3 linked regions of the Homo sapiens genome follow. The protein of the gene in region 2 interacts with the protein of the main gene of each other region in a pairwise test. Each region holds a gene or a part of one and is shown on either strand. Other genes may lie near its edges.

Region 1 (7,687 bases), on a different chromosome or scaffold from region 2:
CTTGGATTTGGCCTAGGAGTATAGTTTGATGAGTACAGTCTGTCACACTCAGATGAGGTCCCTGACAGGTGTCACATTTTGCGGGAGGGCGCTTATGTGAGGGAGTGGAGGGGCGTGAGCCCAGGCAAAGCCACCTGCCTGGTTTGGGAGGCACTTCCAGCTGTTCACCTTGAGCCTTCTGGCCATGTAATCATCTTCTCTTAAGTTTTTCAATAGGCAAAATGGAAAGACAATCACATGTAGAAGGTGTGTCCCGCATCCCTCTTCAGCTGCAAGCACCCTTATGCAGCTAGAAGCGTTCCTGTAACAGCCTCCCTTAGGCCTTCAGAAAAGAAACAATCAACTTTAAACTTACAAATGGGGCTGCTGTGTCCTCACAAGCTGGGGACATAGGTGGCGTTTTTCTTTTTTCCTGAATTGCAGGCTTTACAAATATAATATAGGGTTTAAATTCTGAGGTCCTCAGTTGTTTCAGTGCCTGAGAAAGAAAGTTCAGGAATATTATATACTTTTGAAGTGTTTTGTTGTGAAATAGACTTTTGAAAGCTCAATAATCGTGTGCTTCAATACCATAACCTCAACAGCAAAGGTCCTGGTTACATGGGTCCCATGACAATGGACTTCAACTGGGCAGACCAACTGCTCCTTTTCTCATCCTTCACTTTGACGTTGAACTCAGCGGGGCCCTGAAGTCACACTCACTGCCAACAGAAGGTTCCTAAGCCTCAGCTCAGAGACAGTTGCTGTCTCTCTTAGCTCTGACTCCTCCGGCTATAATTAACCTTCTCAGGCTCCTCTCCACCTTCCATTTCTGATGGGTGAGGAAGCAGGAGTCAGTGTGTATCTATTTAGTCAAATGTCATCAATCGGACTACATTATTACAAACTTTGTGCTATTACATCTCCTCTTGGTATTCAAAGAAGAAAAGGTTTGCAAAGCAAATGAGATTACTGAACAGATCATTTAAAACTGTAGACTGTAGAAACTGCACTCTTGGGCCAGGTGCGGTGGCTCACACCTGTAATCCCAGCACTTTGGGAGGCCGAGCCGGGTGGATCACGAGGTCAGGAGATCAAGACCATCCTGGCTAACATGGTGAAACCCCGTCTCTACTAAAAATACAAAAAATTAGCCAGGCGTGGTGGCGGGCACCTGTAGTCCCAGCTACTCGGGAGGCTGAGGCAAGAGAATGGCGTGAACCCGGGAGGCGGAGCTTGCGGTGAACCAAGATCGCACCACTGCACTCCAGCCTGGGTGACAGAGCAAGAATCTGTCTCAAAAAAAAAGAAAAAGAAATTGTACTCTTGATTAATGCATTTTATCTAGAAGTAAGGGCTCCACTTGGAAACACTAGTATTAAACTGCTATATGCATTATCTGCACCCTTGATCAATAAAGTGATCAATAAAATCACTTTTCAAAGAAAATTTTGAAACTCAGACTTTTAATTTTGATCACTAACTCCCTGTAAGTCCAAATGAGTGTTTTCCTTTATAGGCATAACGTGCTTTTTGGAATATATTTCAAGCAAACTTCTTTAAAATAAAGCCTACAGTTTATAGCATAAAATCAGAGATCTGTTTCTATAGAGGGGAAAAAAAATCCCCAGATTGAGTTCAAAGCTTGGAAGTTTTTCTAAAAGACAAGGTTAAAAAGATGGTTAAGCCCCTGCTGAGTCCACAGCATGCTGGGTGTGCAGGAGTGGAAATGTTTTTGAAGCACTTCCCAGGGCCGTGTCTCCCTCCCTCTTTTTCCCCTTTAAACTGCTCTCCTCACTGCCTCCCTGAGTGGTTCTCTAAGCCACTGACTCCACCTGCCCTGGTTGGGGAGGGGGAGGCCTGGCACCGAGAGCTCAGCCCCAGTTTCACCTGGGTACTGACATCTAATTCTCTGGCACATTGCAATGGCCAGTCAGCGCCACCAACTATTGCATGATCTGTTCCACGCAGGAGTTACTAGCCTGGGTCTGTGGGCCACCAGAGTGTCCACAAGCTCCCTACAATTAATGCAGCATTTGTGGATAGAGGGGCATGTTTTGGGGTACAAGGCTTTCATTTGATTCTCAAAGGAAGACCCAAAGAAATTGAACAGCCAGTGTTCTAGACTAAAAATTCCTTAGACTGAGGTTAAGTGTTGTGTAAAATGTACAATCCCCTAGTTATAAATTCCGTTAACCAGAAATGGCCAGCAGGCCCAGCAACTCACTTCTGGCTCCACATCCACCAAACAAACTTTGTTTTTGGCCATAACAGCCTGAATGGCCTCCAGGCTGGTTCCATACAGATTTTCCTTATATTCACCATGTTCCAGGAACCTAAAACACCACCAAAGGGGAAAAGGCCTTTAGTTCCTCAGCTTTCCTAAATTAGCAAAGCAAAGGGGACCTCCCAACATGACTTCTCTCCCGCTTCCCCCATCCTTTCCGGGAGTCCTCCCAGGAGCTCTAGTGGAATACAGATACAAAAACACACAACTGCCTGGAGGGCCAACTGGCCCATCAAGCAACGTACTTGTTGTGATGTAAGTCGGCCTCAAATGCTTGCTTAGACACAAAGTGATATTCCACTCCTTCCTTCTCATGGCTCTTTCGGGGCCTGGTGGTATCTTTTAAAGAAAGAAGGAAAGCTGGGCAAAGAGATGTCACATCACAGCACGCAGGGACAGCAGCAGGCTTAGGCACTCATTTGGGAGTTCACTGCTGCTGTGTCTAAACCAGGCACTTCCACCTCATTGCATGTCCCTGTATCAGGCACTGTGCCTTTCCAGGCAGGCGTATCACTGATTCACACAACAACTCTTTGATGTAGGCAAAAGGAGGCTTTTCCTTTTGCAGCTGAGAAAACTGAGGCACGGAGAGGTTCAGCACTGTGCACAGTGACCCACAACCAGTAGAGAGCACAGCCAGAATCGGTCTCTCTGCCAAATGCCCAGCTTATACCCTTAACCACTCTGCTAACTGACTCCCTGATGCTGTGTTTTTTTTTTGTTTGTTTTGTTTTGTTTTTTGTTTTGAGACGGAGTTTTGCTCGTTCCCCAGGCTACAGCGCAATGGCATGATTTCGGCTCACTGCAACCTCTGCCTTCTCGGTTCAAGCGATTCTCCTGCCTCAGCCTCCCGAGTAGCTGGAATTACAGGCATGTACCACCACACCCGGCTAATTTTGTATTTTTAGTAGAGATGGGGTTTCTCCATGTTGGTCAGGCTGGTCTCGAACTCCCGACCTCAGGTGATCCACCCGCCTCAGCCTCCCAAAGTGCTGGGATTACAGACATGAGCCACCGCGCCCAGCATATGCTGTGGCTTTTAAAGAATCACTTAAGGGACCCCTAGTCCTAACTTTTAATTCTTCATTGTTTTTTATTTTTTGAGAGCAAAGGAGCCACACATACACTTGACCCTGATGTATGCTTTTAATTCTTTAGTCAATTAGTTCTCATCTCCAGAAAAAGGAGACAGGAAGACAGACCGTCCCTATATAGATCGGATGTGTTTCAGCAAGGCTGGCTCTCAAACAAAAATGTTGAAACACATGGTGTTTTCTCATTGATTTCCATAACAGAATTGGGATGCACACTTCTGAGGAAAATCAGGTCTTCTGCAGAACAAGGGCACACACAAAGCCACACACACAGTATTTTCCAAAAGATAAAATGGGATCTTGAGGCACTGTGTCTTCTGGCCCATGGGAACCACCCAGGGTATGCCCTGTGTTCTTTCTGTGGCATCTTAGTCCAACCTCCGGTAGAGGTGCTAGGGTCACTTTTCCAACCATGTCATCCCCCTGCTTAAAAACTTGTATTTATCTATGGGTTACATTCTAAACACCCTAGCTGAGTATCTGAGACCTGCGTGATCTGCCCAACCTCTCAGCTCCATTTTCCAGCACACCATCCACACTAATCTCCCCGGTCCCCAACACTGCTCCGTCCCTTTGCACATGTTGTTTCCTCTGTAAAGAGAACTATTCCTTTCTCTTCTGCCTGGAAAACTCCTATTTACTCTTCAGAACCCAGCATAAAAGTCACTGCCTCTGGGAAGGCTTCCCTGACTCCCCCAGTTTCTAAAACAAAGGAGGAAAGTCTCCTATCTGTGGAGTGCCTAGAAGCAGGTGGGCCTGACCATCCAGGTACCTCTTCTCCAGGGGGTGGATCCAAGGGGTTCTGAACGATCAGTGTGTGAGCAACCTCTGCATGTCCTGTTTCAGTCCACCTGAAACTTGGAAGGCCGTGGCTCCCTGAAGCCCTCCAGGTCCATCACAGGTGTGCTGCCAGGATGGCCTCCCCAGGGCCACCACCTCCCCCACATCCCTGCCACTTCAGATTGGGCTGTGGAAGACAGCTCTGACAACCCACAGACTAGACGCTGGGCCCAGGGGCCCAGGGAGAGCGGTGTGATCAAAGCAAGGCTTCATGGTTGCTCTGCCCCAGAACACTCTGAGGAGGCCCCATTAGGGCCCCCACAGCACCCCTCTCAGTAGCCACCAGGCATTCACACTGCATCCCTCTGAGGCCAGGGGGACTGAGAGTGAGTCCCAGAAAGAAAAGGGGCAGCCAAGGGCACGAAGTGGGAGGCGGCAGGTGAGAGGCCATTGTGCATCCTCGTTAAGAACATGACTGGGGCAGGCTGCCTGGGTATGAATCCTGGCTCCACCACTTACCAACTGTGTGACATTGGACAAGTTACTTAACCTCTCTGACCCTCACTGTCTTCCTCTGCCACACAAGATGATAACAATCTCTCTTCTCAGGGGTACTGGGAGGGCTGACGCAGGGCACTACACATAAAAGCTCTTGGTGCATTACCTGGCACCTTCATTCTCCTCCTCCTCATCCTCCTTATCACATTCAGAACCAGGATCCTCTGCCCACTGGAGCTTGACATCCCAGGGTGCCCCTGGCAGCAGTAAGCCCCAGGAATTGGCAGGGGAGGCATCACCCAGGAATGTACCCAGCTACCCTGACAAACTGGAATCTGGCTATAAGGGAGTGCCGAGAAATACCACTCACAGGGCTCTGTGGCTTCTCTGACCTGCCCTCTCATCCAAGCAGAGGGCAGCGGCCACAGGAGTCAAAATTCACTGTGATGAGGAGGAATGCCCCCTACTGTGGGGGCCCCGTGGTGTCAGGTTGAGGCTGCCACTTTGCCTACAATGTGCTCTGGACTCATCTCCCACCCCAGGCAGGAACCAAGCAAGTGGTCCTCCAACTTCTGCCTCAGAGGGTCTCAGAGGACCACTGGGAGTGGATTTCTTCCCATCATGCCTTTGTCCCACAATTTGCCAATAGCAGGCAGTGCCTGGTGATCCTTTAAACCCAAAGTAAGGATTTGGATGGATCTGGGGAGTTAAGTCTCCATGGAATATTTGTGTGTGTGCAGACAAACACACACTCCCACATGGGCCCTCTTACGTGGAACAGCGACGCCAAAGTGCTGTGGGTTCTCAGCCACCACCTTTTGCTTCAGCTCGTGCAGTCGGGCTCCCAGAGACCCTGGGAAACAAGAAGAAGGCTGACCAGGGTCCCTGCTGAGCTCCCTCCCCACCTGCTCCAGGGAGGAAACCAGATCACTTCCTGGAAACCCAGGATGGCACCTACCGATCAGAACCACCAGGCGGGGCCGCTCTCCGGGCTGGTGTTGGTACCTGGCCACCTCTTCGTAAGTCAGCAGCTCCGGAGACTCAGCTCCGGAGGACATCTTTCCTTCCTGCGAGCCACCCAGTCTCTCCCTACAGCCCAGCCGGAAGCTCCTCCGAAGACCAGCTTGGGAGGAGGGGCAGAGGGACACCATGGCATTTGTCCCAGTTGTCCCAGGATCTCCCAGTAGAGACTTTTCCCACCTGGCCAGACCTGGAGATGGGACTGAGTCCCACTGACTTCTCCCAACCTCCTCCTGCTACTGGAAGAGGTTGTTCAGGAAATACAATAATAAGATGAAAGGGTGACCCCTGCATTCACAAACTAGGGCTTAAGGTCACTGTTTTACTTGGCATGTGACTGACCTTGGACAAGTCCCTTCATCTCTCTGAGCCTCAATTTCCTTACCTGTGAAATGAAGATATGAATCTACAACTACTATGTGTGGTCCTAGATTAGATCCTGGACCAAGGGAAAATGTCATAAAGGACATGATGGGGACAATTGTTAACATTTAAATAACAGCATATAACAGATTTGGATACATTTTAAATTCTCAGAATTTGATCACTGCCCTGAGAAAGTCCTTGGCCTTAGGAAATACATGCTGAGAGATTTAGGGTTAAAGGGACACGATGTCTACAACTAAGTCTCATATGACTCAGGAAAAAAAAATTCAGAGATGTGGGAAAGGAAATTGAGCAAACATGGCAAAGGAGCAACTGGTGAATCTGGGTGTGGAGTATATGAGAGTTCTTTGTATAATTCTTACACCTTTTCAGTAAGTTTGAAATTACTTCAGGACAAAAGTTAAGGGGCTGGGTGCAGTGGCTCATGCCTGTATCCCAGCACTTTGGTAGGCCAAGGCAGGCAGATCACTTGATCTCAGGAGTTCAAGACCAGCTGGGCAACATGGTGAAACCCTGTCTCTACAAAAAATACAAAAATTAGCCAGGTATAGTGGCATGCACCTGTAGTCCCAGCTACTAGGGAGGCTGAGAGGGAAGAATCGCTTGAGCCTGGGAGGCTGAGGCTGCAGCGATTTGTGATCACACCACTGCACTCCAGTGTGGGTAACAGAGCAAGACCATATCTCAAAAAATAAGTTTAAAAAAAGTTTAAAAACTTTTTAGAAAGGAGGATTGCTTGAAGCCAGGAGCTTGAAACCAGCTGGGCAACATAGCGAGACCCCATCTCTACAAAAAAAATTTTTTTAATCAGCTGGGCATGGTGTCAGATGCCTGCAGTCCCAGCTACTCAGGAGGCTGAGGTGGGAGGATTGTTTGAGCCTAGGACATTGAGGCTGCTGCAAGCTGCAATGTCACACACTACTGCACTCCAGCGTGAGAGACAGGGCAAAACCCTGTCTCTAAAAAATAACCAAAAAACAAAAAAAACTTTTTGCCTATCTCTAAGACCTTTGAAAAAACTGACCAAAACAAGTGAAAAGGGGCTCTGGAGAGCCGCAAACACCCCTCACTGCGTGGTAGTGGTGTTAATATTGAATAAACTCCAATTGCAATGATGGTGATAATAGAATTGGTATTAATGTAGGGGTGTGTGTGCCTTTCCCGCCAGGGCAGTGTGCCCCACAGCTGGGTAAAAGCTGGGTGGGGGCCCAATGCCTGGGCAGGCTCAGCTCCTGCTTGGGTTGAGAGAACTGAGGAGAGATGGGGGTCCCATAGGCTCCACTGCTCCAGAAGGACTCCTGGGGCTCAGATCACCCTGCTTTGACCTCTCCCTAACTCTGGGGCCTTGGGTGGGGCAGGTCGTGCATGTGGGTGTCAGGGGGAGCTACTTACCCACATAGTGCCCTTTGAGGTAGCCCTCACAGTCACAGGTCTCTGGGAAGCAAACAGAGGGAGGGAAGCCAGTGAGTCCCACCAGACACATCCGGCCCAGGGCACCCAGCCCCTGGATGGCCAGGCAGGAAGAGCCCCCTGGGATGGTGTCTCGTGGGGAGCTCAGGGGAAATCCCATGTCCTGGACACCCCAAGAAAGCAAGGTCCTCTGTTTTGCTCAGTTCTCCATGCTTAGGCCCCTAACAGCCTT
Region 2 (7,687 bases):
TTGTTTGGACTATTGTCTAGGGATTTGGATTTTTTTTTTTTTTTTTGAAATGGAGTCTCCCAGGCTGGAGTGTAGTGGCGTGATCTCGGCTCACTGCAACCTCTGCCTCCCGGGTTCAAGCGATTCTCCTTCCTCAGTCTCTCGAGTGGCTGGGACTACAGGCACCCGCCATCACGCCCGGCTAATTTTTGGTATTTTTAGTAGAGACAGGGTTTCACCGTGTTAGCCAGGATGGTCTCGATCTCCTGACCTTGTGATCTGCCTGCCTTGGCCTCCCAAAGTGCTAGGATTACAGGCGCGAGCCACCGTGCCTGGCTGGGGTTTGGATTTTTATTGTAAAGGATTTCCATTTCCTTGATAATAAATCATCTTTTAGATCCCTTTTAATTTTTAATTTTAATTTTTTGTAGAGATGGAGTCTCACTATGTTCCCCAAGCAGGTCTCAAATTCCTGAGCTCATGAGATCCTCCTGCCTTGACCTCTCAAAGTGCTGGGATTACACGTGTGAGCCACCATGCCTGGTCCATAGATCCTCTTGATTCGTTTGTTGGTTGATTGACTGACTGACTGACTGACAGGATCTCACTCTCACCCAGGCTGGAGTACAGTGGTGTGATCTTGGCTCTCTGCAGCCTCGGCCTTCTGAGCTCAAGCGATCATTCTGCCTCTGCCTCCCAAGTAGCTGGGACTACAGGCGTGTGCCACCATGCCTGGCTAATTTTTGTATTTTTTGTAGAGGTGGGATCTCACTATGTTGCCCAGGCTGGTCTCAGACTCTTGGGCTGAAGTGATCTGTCCGTCATGGCCTCCCAAAGTGCTGGGATTACAGGTGTGAGCTTCTGTGCCCAGCCATAGATCCCTTTTAATTAACACTTCTGCGACTCCAATTATTTAGGATCCTGGTTCACCGTATGTTATTCTAATCACTTTTTCTCTGTTGTTTGTATTTACCTTTTACTTCACTGTCAATATTTTATAAATCATATTAGAAAACTCAAGATTTAAATAAAATCAAAAAGTTTTAATACATTAATTTTAAACAGGAAAAATGTAAATAAAGCAAGTGCATATTTTGAAAGCAAAGTTTTGAGTTAAATTTAGGAAATAGGCATTTAGGCTAGTGCCAAGAAAACTTACACGTTCTTTCTGTGTGTAATTTGGAGGAAGGGATGGATTTTGTTCACAGTCATTATTTATTTTTTTTCAGGGCTTGTTAGGAGGCAAAATCATAATTTTTTTTTTACTAGCAGATTGTTTAAAGGCTAGGTTCTGAAATAAGACTGTGCAGGTTTGAAAACTAAGCATTACCAGTTATTGTAACCTTGGGCAAGCTACTTAACCACTCTGAATCTTAGTATTCCCATCTGTAAAATGGCTATAATAATAGTTTCTACGTTTTAAATTTATGGTATTAAATGAGTGAAAACCTAGAGAGCTCTTGGCATGGTACTTTGCACCTACCAAGTACTTAGTAAAACTTAATAATATTTTGATGGTACTGATGATACCCTGTTCTCTCTTCTAAACTGTGATATTGTATCTTTACCTGCTAGGCATTTTCTCTTTTAAAAAAAATTATTTCAGTAGTTTTGGGGGCGTACAAGTGGTTTTTTGTTACATGGATGAATTCTAATACATAGTGGTGAATTCTGAGATTTTAGTGCACCTGTCACTGGAATAGTGTACATTGTACCTAATATATAGTTTTTTATCCCTTGTCCCTTCTCCCACCCTTTCCCTTCTTAGTCTCTGAAGTCCATTTTATCACTCTGTATGCCTTTGCGTACTCATCTGCTGGGCATTTTCTCTTATACCTTCGTACATTACATTAAACACACATCTAAAATCAAACCCCTCATCCCACATGAAGACCACCTTTTTTGTTGTGCATATGTGTTTTAAGTGTAGATATGGAGTAAGCAGCCAGAATTTATTTCAGTTACCAAATATCGACAGACACTTTAAATATCTCAGAGTTAAAAGTTGCAAATTATGTTATTGGAATTCTGAGAACAATATTGATTGCTGCTTCATGTTACACTAACTTTACTTTTTAAACTTCTGAAACGATTTCATTTGACAGGGTGGACCTTAATTAAATATATGTCCACAAGGAGAGTTGACTCTAAATGTCCCACAGGATTTCAGAAACACAGTAAATACCTTTCTTCTATCTATTCTGATCTCCTTGCTCATAGGCTCTCACATGGAATCTTTGGGGCAGCTGTCAGTTCTTCATATTTTCCAGCCCCAATGCCCTTTTTATAAAATTGGGTAGCTGTTAATACATTGATACTTGGGCGCACAGAGTTGGCACTCAATAAGTAGCCGTTAAGTAAATTAATCAAAAGAATTGCAAGATACAAGATACCTGGTCCCTTCTATCAAAGAGTTTATAAATCAAGTATGAATGACAATACCTGAAACCACTTAAAAAAAAATCTATGTAAACACCGTTATATGTGACATGTCAGGATAAGAGGGAACAACTAATAAATTTTGTACACATTCAGTAAATGGAGAGAAAGGTTTTTGGAGATGAGGGGCTTGAGCCAGACCTTGTATGTGTGCTATTAGAAGCTTTCTGGGCTGGACACATTTAAAAACTGCCCTTTGATACTAATAGTATTAAAATTCTGTCTCCTTGGAAGCAGACTGCCTGTTGCTTTAGCTTTAAAAGAGATTTATATCCAAGCATTGCATTATGCAAGCCATAGAAAGACTGTTTTATGTGAAGATGCACTGATTGCACTTCCCTCTCTATATTTTATTGTAGTTAGTTGTTTAGAGCTGTCTCTGTGTAGAGTGTGAGGTCCTTGAGGGAAGGGACCTTCTTGGCCTCTTATCCCCTGCATACTTTGCATAGAGGAGGCACTTCATAAATGTTTGTTGAATAAATGCTACACTCCTAATGGGTAAGAATGTGTCATATTACTCTTTGTTTTCTTATGTGTACTGAAACAAATTGTTTCTTGAGATTGGTCCTTAGAATATTTATTCAGTTTTCACTGATTCTCTTGCTACAGGTTAGCTAACCATGCAGCAGGTGCTTGAGTTTCACCTTTCTCCAGTCCAGCAGAATTACATTTTGATGACCTCCATTTTGATACTTGTAGACCAGATCTAATCCGAAGATTAATCTTTAGGTAACAGATGGAGAGTGATAATGATAACTTCTGTGAAGACAAACCCATGCACACATTCTGTTGTCTGAATAATATTTAAATGAATCCTTCTGCTCCCAAGTCATCAACTTGCCCCTTAACACACATCCCTCTAGAGCACAAATCTGAGCTCCTTGTAGATCTTTGCCCTCTTCACTCTCCAGACCTTCCTAATTAATGTCTTCTCAGAATCGACCTTCTGTCTCTCTTAATCATTAGTTAAAAGAAAAAGTGGCAGATGTAGGACCTGGGGATACATTGCCACATCCCATTTCCTTCTCTATGAGCAGGATTTCCAATTTCCAAGCCTGATGGGATCTCCCAGCTGGAACAGGATCTACAGGTCTTTGATCTGGAAACTAAGACTAGAGAAGTCTTAAGAGATGACTGCTCAGGTGAGTAAGGCAGAATCAGATAGAATTAGTAGGGAAGTAAAGTTCAATTGTTGAGCCAAGTTGTAGCTGCTTTGGCACTCAGAATGAAGAGCTCTGTGTGTGTCCTAGCATGGAGAGTTCCTTCCTTTTCCCTTCAGTTAGGTTGACCCTTTCCATTTGTTTAGTATCCGTGCACATGTCGTACTAGACCCCAATCAAGTTGCTTATCTAAAATTCTTTCAGCTGTTTCCCTATTATTTCCTTACTCTGCTGAACATGTCCGCTGTTTTACCTCACTGCTCCTGTTTATGCCCTTAACTTCTGCTGTTGAGATTTTGTGCCTGTTTTTCAGAGTAAATAAACTTTTCTTGTCCTTGTAGATACTACATTGTTTAGTTTTCTCATCTGAGTTTTCTTTTCCTAAGCACAGGGTACAGATTACATTTGCATTTTCTATTTATATATTGTATCAGATGGAGAGACCAGAGAAGAGAACAAGCTGTTGATTCCTAAGCAGAAAATTTCGGAAGAAGTGCATTCATACAAAGTGAGAGTAGGAAGACTCAAACACGATATTACCCAAGTTCCTGAGACTAGAGAAGTGTATAAGTCTGAGGACAGATTAGAAAGACTTCAGGAAATTCTAAGGAAATTTCTGTACCTGGAGAGAGAGTTTAGGCAAATAACAATCAGCAAGGAAACCTTCACCAGTGAGAAGAACAATGAATGTCATGAACCCGAAAAAAGCTTCAGTCTGGACTCTACTATTGATGCAGATCAGAGAGTTCTTAGAATACAGAATACCGATGACAATGATAAGTATGACATGAGCTTCAACCAGAATTCAGCCTCTGGTAAACATGAACACTTAAATCTAACAGAGGATTTTCAGAGTAGTGAATGTAAGGAAAGCTTAATGGATCTCTCCCACCTTAATAAATGGGAGAGCATCCCTAACACTGAGAAATCCTATAAATGTGATGTATGTGGGAAAATTTTCCATCAGAGCTCAGCCCTTACTAGACATCAGAGAATCCATACTAGAGAGAAGCCCTACAAATGTAAAGAATGTGAAAAGTCTTTCAGTCAGAGCTCAAGTCTTAGTCGACATAAAAGAATACACACTAGAGAAAAACCTTACAAATGTGAAGCATCTGATAAATCCTGTGAAGCGTCTGATAAATCCTGTAGTCCAAGCTCAGGCATAATTCAGCATAAGAAAATTCACACCAGAGCCAAATCTTACAAATGTAGCAGTTGTGAAAGAGTCTTCAGTCGTAGTGTCCACCTTACTCAACATCAGAAAATTCACAAAGAGATGCCCTGTAAGTGTACTGTATGTGGCAGTGACTTCTGCCATACTTCATACCTACTTGAACATCAGAGGGTCCATCATGAAGAGAAAGCCTATGAGTATGATGAATATGGGTTGGCCTATATTAAACAACAAGGAATTCATTTCAGAGAAAAGCCCTATACGTGTAGTGAATGTGGAAAAGACTTCAGATTGAATTCACATCTTATTCAGCATCAAAGAATTCACACAGGAGAGAAAGCACATGAATGTAATGAATGTGGAAAAGCTTTCAGTCAAACCTCATGCCTTATTCAGCATCACAAAATGCATAGGAAAGAGAAATCGTATGAATGTAATGAGTATGAGGGCAGTTTCAGTCATAGCTCAGATCTTATCCTGCAACAAGAAGTCCTCACCAGACAGAAAGCCTTTGATTGTGATGTATGGGAAAAGAACTCCAGTCAGAGAGCACATCTAGTTCAACATCAGAGCATTCATACCAAAGAGAACTCATGAATGTAATGAAGATGGGAAGATATTTATCAAATTCAGGCTTCATTCAGCATCTGAGAGTTCACACCAGGGAGAAATCATGTATGTACTGCATGTGGTAAAGCCTTCAGTCATAGCTCAGCCATTGCTCAGCATCAGATAATTCACACCAGAGAGAAACCCTCTGAATGTGACGAATGAAGAAAAGGTATTAGTGTTAAACTCTTAATCGACTCCTGCAAATCTATACCAGTGAGAAATCTTACAAATGTATTGAATGTGGCAAATTTTTCATGCTATTAGTATTTTCATACCTTAGTCACATTTGGAGAATTCACATGGGAATAAAATTCCATTGCTGCAATGAATGTGAAAAAGCCATCAGTCAAAGAAACTACCTTGTTTAGTATCAAATTCACGCCATGCAAAAAGATTATAAATGTAATAAGCATGTATGTGTGTGAGGAGATTCAGTCATAACCCAACGCTCATTCAACATCAAAGAATTTATACCTAAGAGAACTTATTTGGGTGTAGTAAATGGCAGATCTTTCAATAGGAGTTTAACTAGTCTTTGTCATATCAGAATATCCATAGTAGACAAGAATTTGATGTAACGCAAATGGAAAAACTCGACACCACATTTCAGGCTTTACCCAACATCGAAATAATGGAGAGAAAATTGTTGATTATTTGTTTATGAAATTGTTAATACATAGTCCCAATCTTTTTCATTGCACAAAAATCTAGGGTTGACTTGGTAAATGCAGTGACATTTTCTCATGGAGTTCCTTTATTTAATATGTATTCTAAGTAGGTACGTTTATTTTTACTTTTTTATTATAATTTTGATATTAAAAAGAACAGAGATGGGGTCTTGCTTTGTTGCCCAGGCTGGTCTTGAACTCCTGGCCTCAAGCGATCCTCCCACCTGTCCTCCCAAAGTGCTGGGGTTACAGGCGTGTGTCACTGTGCTGGGCCTATTTTATTTATAGAACTCATTTAAGCTGTTTTTATTTTAATATGCCCTATAAACATTTTTATATTTTTTGAAATTGGTTCTTAGTGTTCACAACTTCCATAAGATACTGCTAATGCACCAGTATTAAAACACATCGACGTAAGTAGCTCATTTAGCTTTTTCTGCTGTTCTTGGCCCAAGTTCTTTCCAAAACCAACTCTTAGGCCTGCTCTTTACTAGGGATCTTATGTCGTATTGCTTTACAGCCACAACACTTGGATTCCTGTTGATTAACTTCTCCATTCTCTTAAGCACCTTTAGAAGATTTAGAAGTTTCCTAGTTTTAAGTGTTTCACCAGCAAGTATTCCATACCTACTTGATGTTGCTGGTCTGGTGTCTTATTTCCTAAAGTGAAGCATCTTTTTTTAAAAAAGAATTTGATTGACAATATATCCAGTCCAATATAAGTATGAAGGATTCTCTCTCCTGAGATTGTAGCAGGCAGCCAAACATTTTCAAATGATGCCCAAGGTTTTAGCTGTCTTGTGTGCATCCACAGTCTGCGAAGAAGACATGATAAGGACATCAGGGAGCCAACAAGACTCCTAATAGCCTCACTACATTCATCCAGTGCCTATTCTGCATGCCTAAGCTTAGAGTTCTTTTATATACCTCTACGGCCAGCAAAATGCTCAGGTCTGCTCTTGGTAGGGTAAACATAAAGAAGATACACAGGCCGGGCATGGTGGCTCACACCTGTAATCCCAGCACTTTGGGAGGCTGAGGCGGATGGATCACGAGGTCAGGCAGTCGAGACCATCCTGGCCAACATGGTGAAACCCCGTCTCTACTAAAAATACAAAAGTTAGCCGGGTGTGGTGGCACGCGCCTGTAATCCCAGCTACTCAGGAGGCTGAGGCAGGAGAACTGCTTGAACCTGGGAGGCGGAGGTTGCAGTGAGCCGAGATTGCACCACTGCACTCCAGCCTGGGCGACAGAGCAGGACTCTCTCTCAAAAAAACACAAAAAAACAAAAACAAAAAACCATACACACACACACACACACACAAATCAGCATCATAAGGGAATGTAGCCTTCCAACAGAGATGATGCTGTTCGTATGTTAATCTCAGAGACAGTATTTCAAGAGAGTGGCAGGTCTGTTCCTGGTAAAATTTTAACCATTAGGATTGCAGATAAATGTTTGAATTCTGCTCCTCTCTCATCAATCCAGGACAGTATTTGAAGTGTGAGGGCTTTGTGTATAGTTGTTTATCCATTACCACATTTTTGTATTTTAATAGTCTACAGGCTATATAAAAGAACATGGCTTTTTGACTGATAAAAGTGATTACAGATGTTGGCTCAAGTTCAGGGCCACCATCATATACCTAACA
Region 3 (8,451 bases), on a different chromosome or scaffold from region 2:
GCACCAGGCTTTGCTGTGCTTGGAGCTCAATTTCCAGAGCACTGGCTGTGCGTTTCAGTTCCAAGATCTCCATCTGGCAGCCCTGCAGCTGCTCCGCGCTGGACAGTTGCTGCTGATTCAGCTCTTCTGTCTGAAACACAGACACCATTAGAGAATTCAAAAAAGGCAGAAGTCTGTAAGCCTGACATTTTTTCAATCTGGGTACTGACCTGAACAGCCAACCATTCTTCAGCTTCTCTGCGATTGTTGGCAAGCACCGTTTCACACTGACAGCGCATCTCATCCAGGACCCTGTTGAGGTCAAGGGTGGGGGCAGTGTCCAGCTCCACACTGAGGCGGTCGCCAAGCTGTTCACGAAGCAAGTTGACTTCCTGAAAGTGGGATGGTGTAAAGAATGTCACAGAATGGTGGGGAAAAATCCATTTGACATCCAATGGCATTCTACTTCTGTTTTTTGGAGCAGTGGGTAAAAGTGTGAGATTTTGATTCAGATTGCCTGGGCTGAATCTCTTTTCACCACTTAGAAGGGCCTCAGTTTCTTCGTCTGTAAAATGGACATAATAATTGGACATTTTTCCAGAAAGTTATTGTGAGATCTAGAAGAGTCAATCTACACATAATTAACTTATAAAAGTTAATTATGACACATAGTAAGGTGTCAATAAATGTTAGCTATGATTGTCATCAACAAACGTTCAAAGAGCAAATGTACTTTGTTACATCATTCAGCTTTTCATTTTCTAGCTTTATCAATATATCAGTGGCTGTATATTTTATGATTTTTAGAAGTTTATAAATGCGGAATATTTAAAAACACTGGTCCAGATAGTGCACAGTCTTTATCCCTTTTTTGAAATGGACTTCACAGTCTGTTCCTCAGCCTGATTTTCATACCCTGTGGACTGGAGCTAGGGGTGGCATAAAGCCTCCAAAGGAAGCCATTTGTGAAGTTACCTCCTCCACAAAGGCAAGGGCAGGAGAAGAGTTTGATTCCTTCCTCTGGCGCTGTCTAGGGGTTATTTCACACCTTAAATCAGAGACACACTGGAATGATCAGGTTGAATAGTAATAATGCCTCGAGTAGTTTTTGTTTGTTTGTTTGTTTGTTTGTTTTTTGAGATGGAGTCTCGCCCTGTCACCCAGGCTGGAGTGCAGTGGTAAGATCTCGGCTCACTGCAACCTCCGCCTCCTGAGTTCAAGTGATTCTCCTGCCTCAGCCTCCCGAGTAGCTAGGACTACAGGCGCCTGCCACCATGCCCAGCTAATTTTTGTATTTTTAGTAGAGATGAGGTTTCATCATATTGGTCAGGCTGGTCTCGAACTCCTGACCTTGTGATCCTCCTGCCTCAGCCTCCCAAAGTGCTTGGATTACAGGTGTGAGCCACCATGCCTGGCCCTGCCTCAAGTAGTTTTATTCCAGCTTAAACAACATCTGCCCAAATTCGATTTACAAACATCAACAGATCATCTGTCAATGTAAGTACGTTACTCTCGGAGTCCTTCAGCGGAGTTGCCACTTTCCTTACCTCTTCATGGTTTTTCTTAAGGCAAAGGAGATCTTCCTTCAGAGACTCCACATGGGCCTCCAGATCAGATTTGCACAGGGTCAGTTCCTCCAGGATCCCATGCAGGCTGCTGATGTCAGCCTCTAACAGCTGGCGAAGGGACAGTTCACTCTCGTACCTTTCACAGCAAAAGAGAAATCCAACGCTTACTTTGCTGAACGCTGTGCAAAGTGTGGGGATACATGGAGGATCGACACACGGACTTCAGGAAGCCATGTGCATAATTTCTCTTAATTCCTAAGTAATGATAAATTCAAGCTTTTAAAACATTCTTAACTTTAAAATATTATATAGAGAATATTTGTGTGTGTGTGTGTGTGTGAGAGAGAGAGATTGAGAGAGAGAGAGCCATAAGTTATTTTCAAATTAAAATTAAAGCCGGGCGTGGTGGCTCATGCCTGTAATCCCAGCACTTTGGGAGGCCAAGGCGGGCAGATCACCTGAGGTCAGGAGTTCGAGACCAACCTGGCCCACATGGTGAAACCCTGTCTCTACTAAAAATACAAAAATTAGCTAGGTGTGGCGGTGCACGCCTGCCTGTAATCCCGGCTACTCAGGAGGCTGAGGCAGGAGAACCACTTGAACCCAGGAGGCAGAGGTTGCAGTGAGCTGAGATAGCACCATTGAGCTCTAGCCTGGGTGACAAGAGTGAAACTCCATCTCAAAATAAATAAATAAAATAAAATTAAATTAAACTTACTTTGACTTAAAGTCATCAGTGGCCAGTTTGCAGTTGTCAAGCTGTACAGCAAGTCTAGAATTCTCTGCTTTCGTGCATAAGATCTGGGAAGCAAGTCATTATGTGATAAATGATTCTTTGAGAGAAACCTAAGTAAACTTCTATCCAACAGCTATGCCATTAGCTATCTTTTGAAAGTCTTTATAAGAAAGTATAAAATCACCCTCAGCCTGCTTTTTTTTATTAACCTTGTCACTTCATGAAGAAAAAAAGCAGAGCCAATTTAGAAACAAAATAATGAAATAAAAAGGTTTAGTTTTTTAATAACATAAGACATTTTGCAACATTCTCAGGCAGTTGAACACCATTAATGTTTTCTCCATCAGTAGTTTGTATTATGAGTATATCCTCTCCCATAATAATAGAAATTCATGGAGAGAAGAAAATGATTACTAGGTAGTTAAAAAGATGGCATTTCATGATCTGTGTTCAGATAATGTAAATGTTCAGTGTCACGTACAAAAGCGATTTTGGATATAATACAGTTTTTCTGCATTCTATAGATGATGAAGGAAAAGTCTACAGGCAAGTTACTTTATTATAGTCACTCAGTAATCAGGGGTAGCTCTGGGGCTGATGCTGAGGTTTTCTGACTTTCAGTCCGGTGCTCTCCCCTATGTATCACTAACTCTTAGAATTTTCCTTTCCCTTGGTTTCCTTCTGTAAAACAGCCCCTTCTAGTAGAAAGATAAAGCAAACCATAGATCAGGAAGGTGGAGCACTAGGGCAACAGGACACAGACCTTTTGTTGGAGATCTTCAATGGTGTTGAAGTAACGCTGATAATCCGGGCACACCATTGGGATATCCTGTTCACATTGTTCTTGGATCCTGGATTCCAGCTCTGCGTTGGTCTCCTCCAGGCTGCGCACCTTCTCCAGATAGCTGGCGAGTCTGTCATTCAGGAACTGCATCGTCTCCTTCTCATTGCTAGTGAACACCCCATCCTCACACCAGGCACAGTTCCCCACCAAGCAGGGACTATTACAACTCCCAGTAAAGTAGCATGGCAGGAGGCAACCAGTCAGCCCGCGAGACCTGGATAGGAAGCTTGGAGTCTGACATCGGGATGTAGCACAGGTACCGGGGAGACAAGCTGTTTCCACGGAGCAGCTTGAGGCAGGTGCACAACCGGAAGCCGTGCCACAGGACTCAGGAGAGCAGTGTGTGGAGGAGCAGTCAGAAGTCATCCTTCCAGAAGCAAAGACAGAGACTGGCTGCAAAACTTCAGTTGCCTTGACTCCAAAACTCTCCTCTCCTGAGAGTTTTATAACCCCCCAAAATGGGTGTTTACAGACTGCACCGGATGTTTTCTTTATCACTGATGGTGCCAGTTTTCGTACAAACATCTCATTAGAGTTGTTTATTTACTGAGGAAGAGTTTTATGCCTCATAAAATAGGGATAACTTTAGGTTACCAAAGCAGGACCCACACCATTTCCATGTGCAAGACAAAACACTTATTTCAGAAAATCGTCATAGGAAGCATTGTGCTTTTGACAGAATAATAAAAGAAAGAGAAAATTTGGCCAATGAATAATTATAGATACAACTCATTACAAATCAGGAAAATAATATGTCCACAGATTTTGATTCTGTGGATTGATTGCTTGTGTCCCCTTTTAAAATTAGTATTACAGCTCACAAAATGACAATTATTTGTTTGTGCCACCACCATAAAAATGGTCAGTGTGATTAGTAATCTTTCAATGCTTTTTGTGATCTCAGAGCATGTGCTGATAAAGACTGGAGGAGTGAGCTATATATTGGGTTTAAAGTGTGTGTGTGTGTGCAAACCATGTCTACCTGCGTACAAATGGAAAAGTCACTTTACATAACTGATAGGAATAACTTGTTTTTCTGCAGGCTAAAATATAAATTGGTTAGAGCTGGAATTATGATCTTTGATTTCCTGAAACTTGCCTTCTCCACATTTCTCATTGCTTATTGTTAGATAAGTTATACTATTTTACCTGTATTCCTAATAAGAGTGAAATATAAATTCTAAGTTATAACCTTTTAGTCCCTTGGGAATTCCTTAATGATTATACTTCAGAGTAGGGGCAAGGAACCCACAGGAATCTTTTCTTCTGAGATGTAGAGCCTGTTTTCTCCTATTTATTTATTTATGAAGGCCTGAATTTCATGAAAATTGAAAATACTGGAACTTGGAAAATAAAATTCTATTTAGGTTCCAAATCAGTAATTCCACTGGATGAAATCTCTGGTGCCAAATCTGACAGACAGGAACTTGAGATACGTAATTTTTTTGAATTATCTCTTGGATTTCACCTCCATTGTGAAGGATAATCTATTTCACTTTGCTTGGTTTTAGTCGTTACATTTATTTCATTTTCAAAGGTGCATAGAGAAAATTGTCTCTAGAATTTTTAAGAACATTATAGGAAAAAAACAGATTAATCTGAAAAAGTTAAAAAATTTTTGATCCAGAATAAACTTATTTTTTCTCCTAATCTTGAGTGCTACTTCCTAGGTACCTGATAGTAGAAACCAAACCAAACCAAACCAGAAGAACATATGTAAGTGAGTTAAAATAGTCTCTTAGGATTTATTACTCCCTGGGCAGAGCTGGGTTTGAATTTAGTGATTCTCTTTACACATCAACACTTATGCAAAAAGTTCTTAGAGTGTCTCATGGTATATTGACGCTGCTCTGCAACAAATATGAGTTCAAGGATTCAAAAACACTTCTGAAAAATTACAAATCTCTGAAAGAAAATTATCTTTTCACAGTAACCTAATGAGTCAAAAGAAAAATATCTGTGAAGAAAACCCATGTTTTGGTTGTCCATCACAGGCTCCAGTTAGCTAAAATGCAGTCATGTAAGTGCAGGTAAAATAAGAAATATTTCCTTCTGTCTGGAACTAATTTCTAATTGTAAATTATTTGTTACTGGTTATTGTCCTGCAGGTAGGACTATTTATTTTGGTCTTGATTAATTAGGTAGTGTTGTATAATGATCTATAGCTATAGTCTCCATCGTAGAATATAGAAATCACCCAGAATTCATTTCTGTGGAGTCCTCCTTAGGGAAAAGAAGTCAGGCTGGCAGGACCAGAGGAAAGCAAGTTAGTGGGTGCAGCGCACCAGTATGGCACATGTATACATATATAACTAACCTGCACAATGTGATAAATAAATAAAAAAAACCAAAAAACAAAAAACAAAGAAAGAAAGCAGGTAATGTATAAGACTCACCTTCTTCATGGTCCAGGACACATAGCCCTCCTGCACAATATTCCTGCACCCAGCTATCACCAGACCTTCAGCTGATAGAAAAATGTAACTTAGCTCACTGCAACCTTAGTGTTATCAGTACCACACAAACCCTCTTCAGCACACAGTACAAGCACCATCCTGTAAAATCTCCAGCACGCCTTTGTCTCCTTGCAGACAGCCCCTTCTCTGCTGTGCTGCCCATTGCTTCCTTGCAACGTATTTTCATACGTTCTCTAATATATCTGCCTTTCTTTACCTACAACTATCTTGATAAATTCTTCTTACCCCCATGCCACCAGCCCCAGATAGTTGCTAATCACCCGTGACAATTTCTATAGCATATCATCACCAGAAGAAAGGAACATTGGGAATAGAGAAAAAGAAATAGACATCATGAAAGGCCATGATAAAAAAAAAAACCGACAACAACACGGTAGTTTATTTTGCATAATACTATGCTCTTACCTTACAACATCCACCTAGGCTGCCAGAATCATTTTCCTAAAATACAAACCTGCTTTTTGTCGCCTTCCACTTATGGAATGCAAACTTTCTACCTTGGCAAATATGACCTTCCCTAACCTGGTGCCAATTTACCTTTCTGGGCTCACTTCCTGATGTTCTGTCTCACAAACCCTAAGCTCCAGCCATCCTTCAAGCTTCGTAGGTACTATTTTCTTGGTCAAATGCTCTTCTGCTATTCGTTTCCTGGATGAACTCACATGTCAAGACTCAGCTGAAACGTCGTTCAACTGCCTCATGTGGAGATGTGGCTCCTCCCAGAGCACTTTGCACGCATCTCTGCTATAGCAGTTGTCTTGTTGCTTTTAACATTTGTGCGACAGGTTATAAGAGTTTACATGAGGCCTTAAGAAATTTGGCTCAGGGCCAGAGCTAGTATCCACGTGCAGCAACTTGGTTGATTTTCACTGTTTTGGGCAACAACCTAAATAACTTTTAACAGTGCCTGGGAATGTTCAAGGGTCAGCTCGGGTTCAAGCTGCAGGGGAAACACACAGCTGGCTGGGCCACAGGGTGGTCAAGGTAATCTGTTTCCCAAGGCAAAGAAGGAAGTGGAGGGATGATCTGGGTGACCCTACAACATGATCAATCATATTGAATAACTTGGTCACTCTACATTATCCTTTATGTAAATTGTTTTATTCAGTTAGTTGATAGGATTAGCAAATGGATTTCCACCCCCATCTATGTTCTTGAGAAATATTTCCTGTAAATTTCTTTTCTTCTAATGATCTTGTTAGGTTTTGGTATCAAGTTACATACTGGGTTCACAATATGACTTAGCTCTGCGTCCCCACCCAAACTTCATCTCAAATTATAAACCCCAAATCCCCACGTGTTAGGGGAGGGACCTGGATGATTGGATCATGGGGGCAGTTTCCCGTATACTGTTCTTGTGATAGTGAGTTCGTTCTCAGGAAATCTAATGGTTTTGTAAGTGTGTGACAGTTCCTCCTTCCCACGCTCTCTCTCACCTGCCCCCATGTAAGAAGTGCCTGCTTCCCCTTCCACCATTATTGTAAGTTTCCTGAGGCCTCCCCAGCCATGTGGAACTGGGACTCAATTACACCTCCTTCCTTTATAAATTATCCAGTCTCAGATATTTCTTTATAACAGTGTGAGAATGGAGTAATACTGTTCATAAATTAAATTGGGAAATGTTTCCTCTTTATTTCATGAAATTCTGTAAGATTAGTGTTATTTATTCCTTAAATGTTTGATGGAGTCCAGTGAGGCCACCTCTTCCAGGAGTCTCCCATGTGAAAAAGTTGTGTTTTGTTTTTAACTAGGAAAAAAAATGTCTGGGCGCGGTGGCTCAAGCCTGTAATCCCAGCACTTTGGGAGGCCCAGGCAGGCAGATCACTTAAGGGCAGGAGGTTGAGACCAGCCTGGCTAATATGCTGAAGGCTTGTCTCTACTAAAAATACAAAAATTAGTTGGGCATAGTGGCGAACACCTGTAGTCCTAGCTTTTCGGGAGGCTGAGGCATGAGAATTGCTGAAACCTGGAAGGCAGATGTTGCGGTGAGCCGAGATCACACCATTGCACTCCAGCTTGGGTGAGAGTGAGACTCCATTTCAAACACACACACACACACACACACACACACACACACACACACACACATGCACACACACACGCAAATATATGTATATTTGCTGACCTCTACATCAAATTGCTTACCTCTACTTATAGAAACCTCACAATGCTATTCAGTTGTTCTATTTCATTTTGTGTGAAAGTTGCATTTTTCAAGGAGTTTGTTCACTTCACCTAAGTTGCAAAAATACTGAAATAAAGTTGTTCATAATAATCCTTATCATGAATTTTAGTATCTGCAGTGTCTATAAATTCTCACTATTTAATTCCAGATATTGGTAATTTGTGTTTTATCTCATGCTTCCCCCATCAATCTGGCTTGATGTTCATCAGATTAATACTAATGTATTGTTTATTTCAAGGTTGCTGAAAGAGTAGATTTTTGATGTTCTCACCATAAAACAATGATCAGGTGCTTAGGTGATGGATATGTTACTTAGCTTGATTTATCTTTCCACAATGCATACATAAATCAAAACACCACATTGTACCCCACAAATATACATATACACAATTATTATTTGCCAACTAAAAAATAACTAAATAGAAGTACTTTATGAATCCTTTCAAAGAATCAAATTTTAGCTTCATTAATTTCCTCGTTTTCTATTCATTGATTTCTGATATTATGTTTATTATTTATTTCTTTCTCCTTACTTTGAATTTTAATTGTTCTTTTTCTATTTAGTTGAAATGAAAACTTAAGTGATTGATGAAGAGATAAATGAAGGTGATAAAGATGTAAATCTTATTTTCTAATATAATCATTTGCTGTATATTTTCTAC

The links. The genes of interacting proteins can lie anywhere in the genome.
Region 1: the proteins of ZNF655 (region 2) and MPP3 interact in binary tests that used the Homo sapiens proteins (3 or more experiments, as listed by UniProt).
Region 3: the proteins of ZNF655 (region 2) and KRT40 interact in binary tests that used the Homo sapiens proteins (3 or more experiments, as listed by UniProt).

Annotation. Positions count from the first base shown.
Region 1 is NC_000017.11:43,808,601-43,816,287, forward strand, and holds part of MPP3 (MAGUK p55 subfamily member 3), read right to left. Parts: intron 7,480-7,687; coding exon 7,438-7,479; exon of another isoform or gene 6,980-7,437; intron 6,044-6,979; exon of another isoform or gene 5,762-6,043; coding exon 5,597-5,761; intron 5,492-5,596; coding exon 5,411-5,491; intron 2,606-5,410; coding exon 2,512-2,605; intron 2,316-2,511; coding exon 2,207-2,315; intron 479-2,206; coding exon 356-478; intron 1-355. UniProt on the Homo sapiens protein: Participates in cell spreading through the phosphoinositide-3-kinase (PI3K) pathway by connecting CADM1 to DLG1 and the regulatory subunit of phosphoinositide-3-kinase (PI3K). Stabilizes HTR2C at the plasma membrane and prevents its desensitization.
Region 2 is NC_000007.14:99,568,233-99,575,919, forward strand, and holds part of ZNF655 (zinc finger protein 655), read left to right. Parts: intron 1-3,455; coding exon of another isoform or gene 3,456-3,560; intron 3,561-4,012; coding exon 4,013-5,352; 3' UTR 5,353-7,687. UniProt on the Homo sapiens protein: Probable transcription factor.
Region 3 is NC_000017.11:40,980,781-40,989,231, forward strand, and holds the start of KRT40 (keratin, type I cytoskeletal 40), read right to left. Parts: upstream 3,547-8,451; 5' UTR 3,494-3,546; coding exon 3,047-3,493; exon of another isoform or gene 2,349-3,046; coding exon 2,266-2,348; exon of another isoform or gene 1,684-2,265; coding exon 1,527-1,683; intron 1,200-1,526; exon of another isoform or gene 545-1,199; coding exon of another isoform or gene 521-544; exon of another isoform or gene 372-520; coding exon 210-371; exon of another isoform or gene 131-209; coding exon 5-130; exon of another isoform or gene 1-4. UniProt on the Homo sapiens protein: May play a role in late hair differentiation.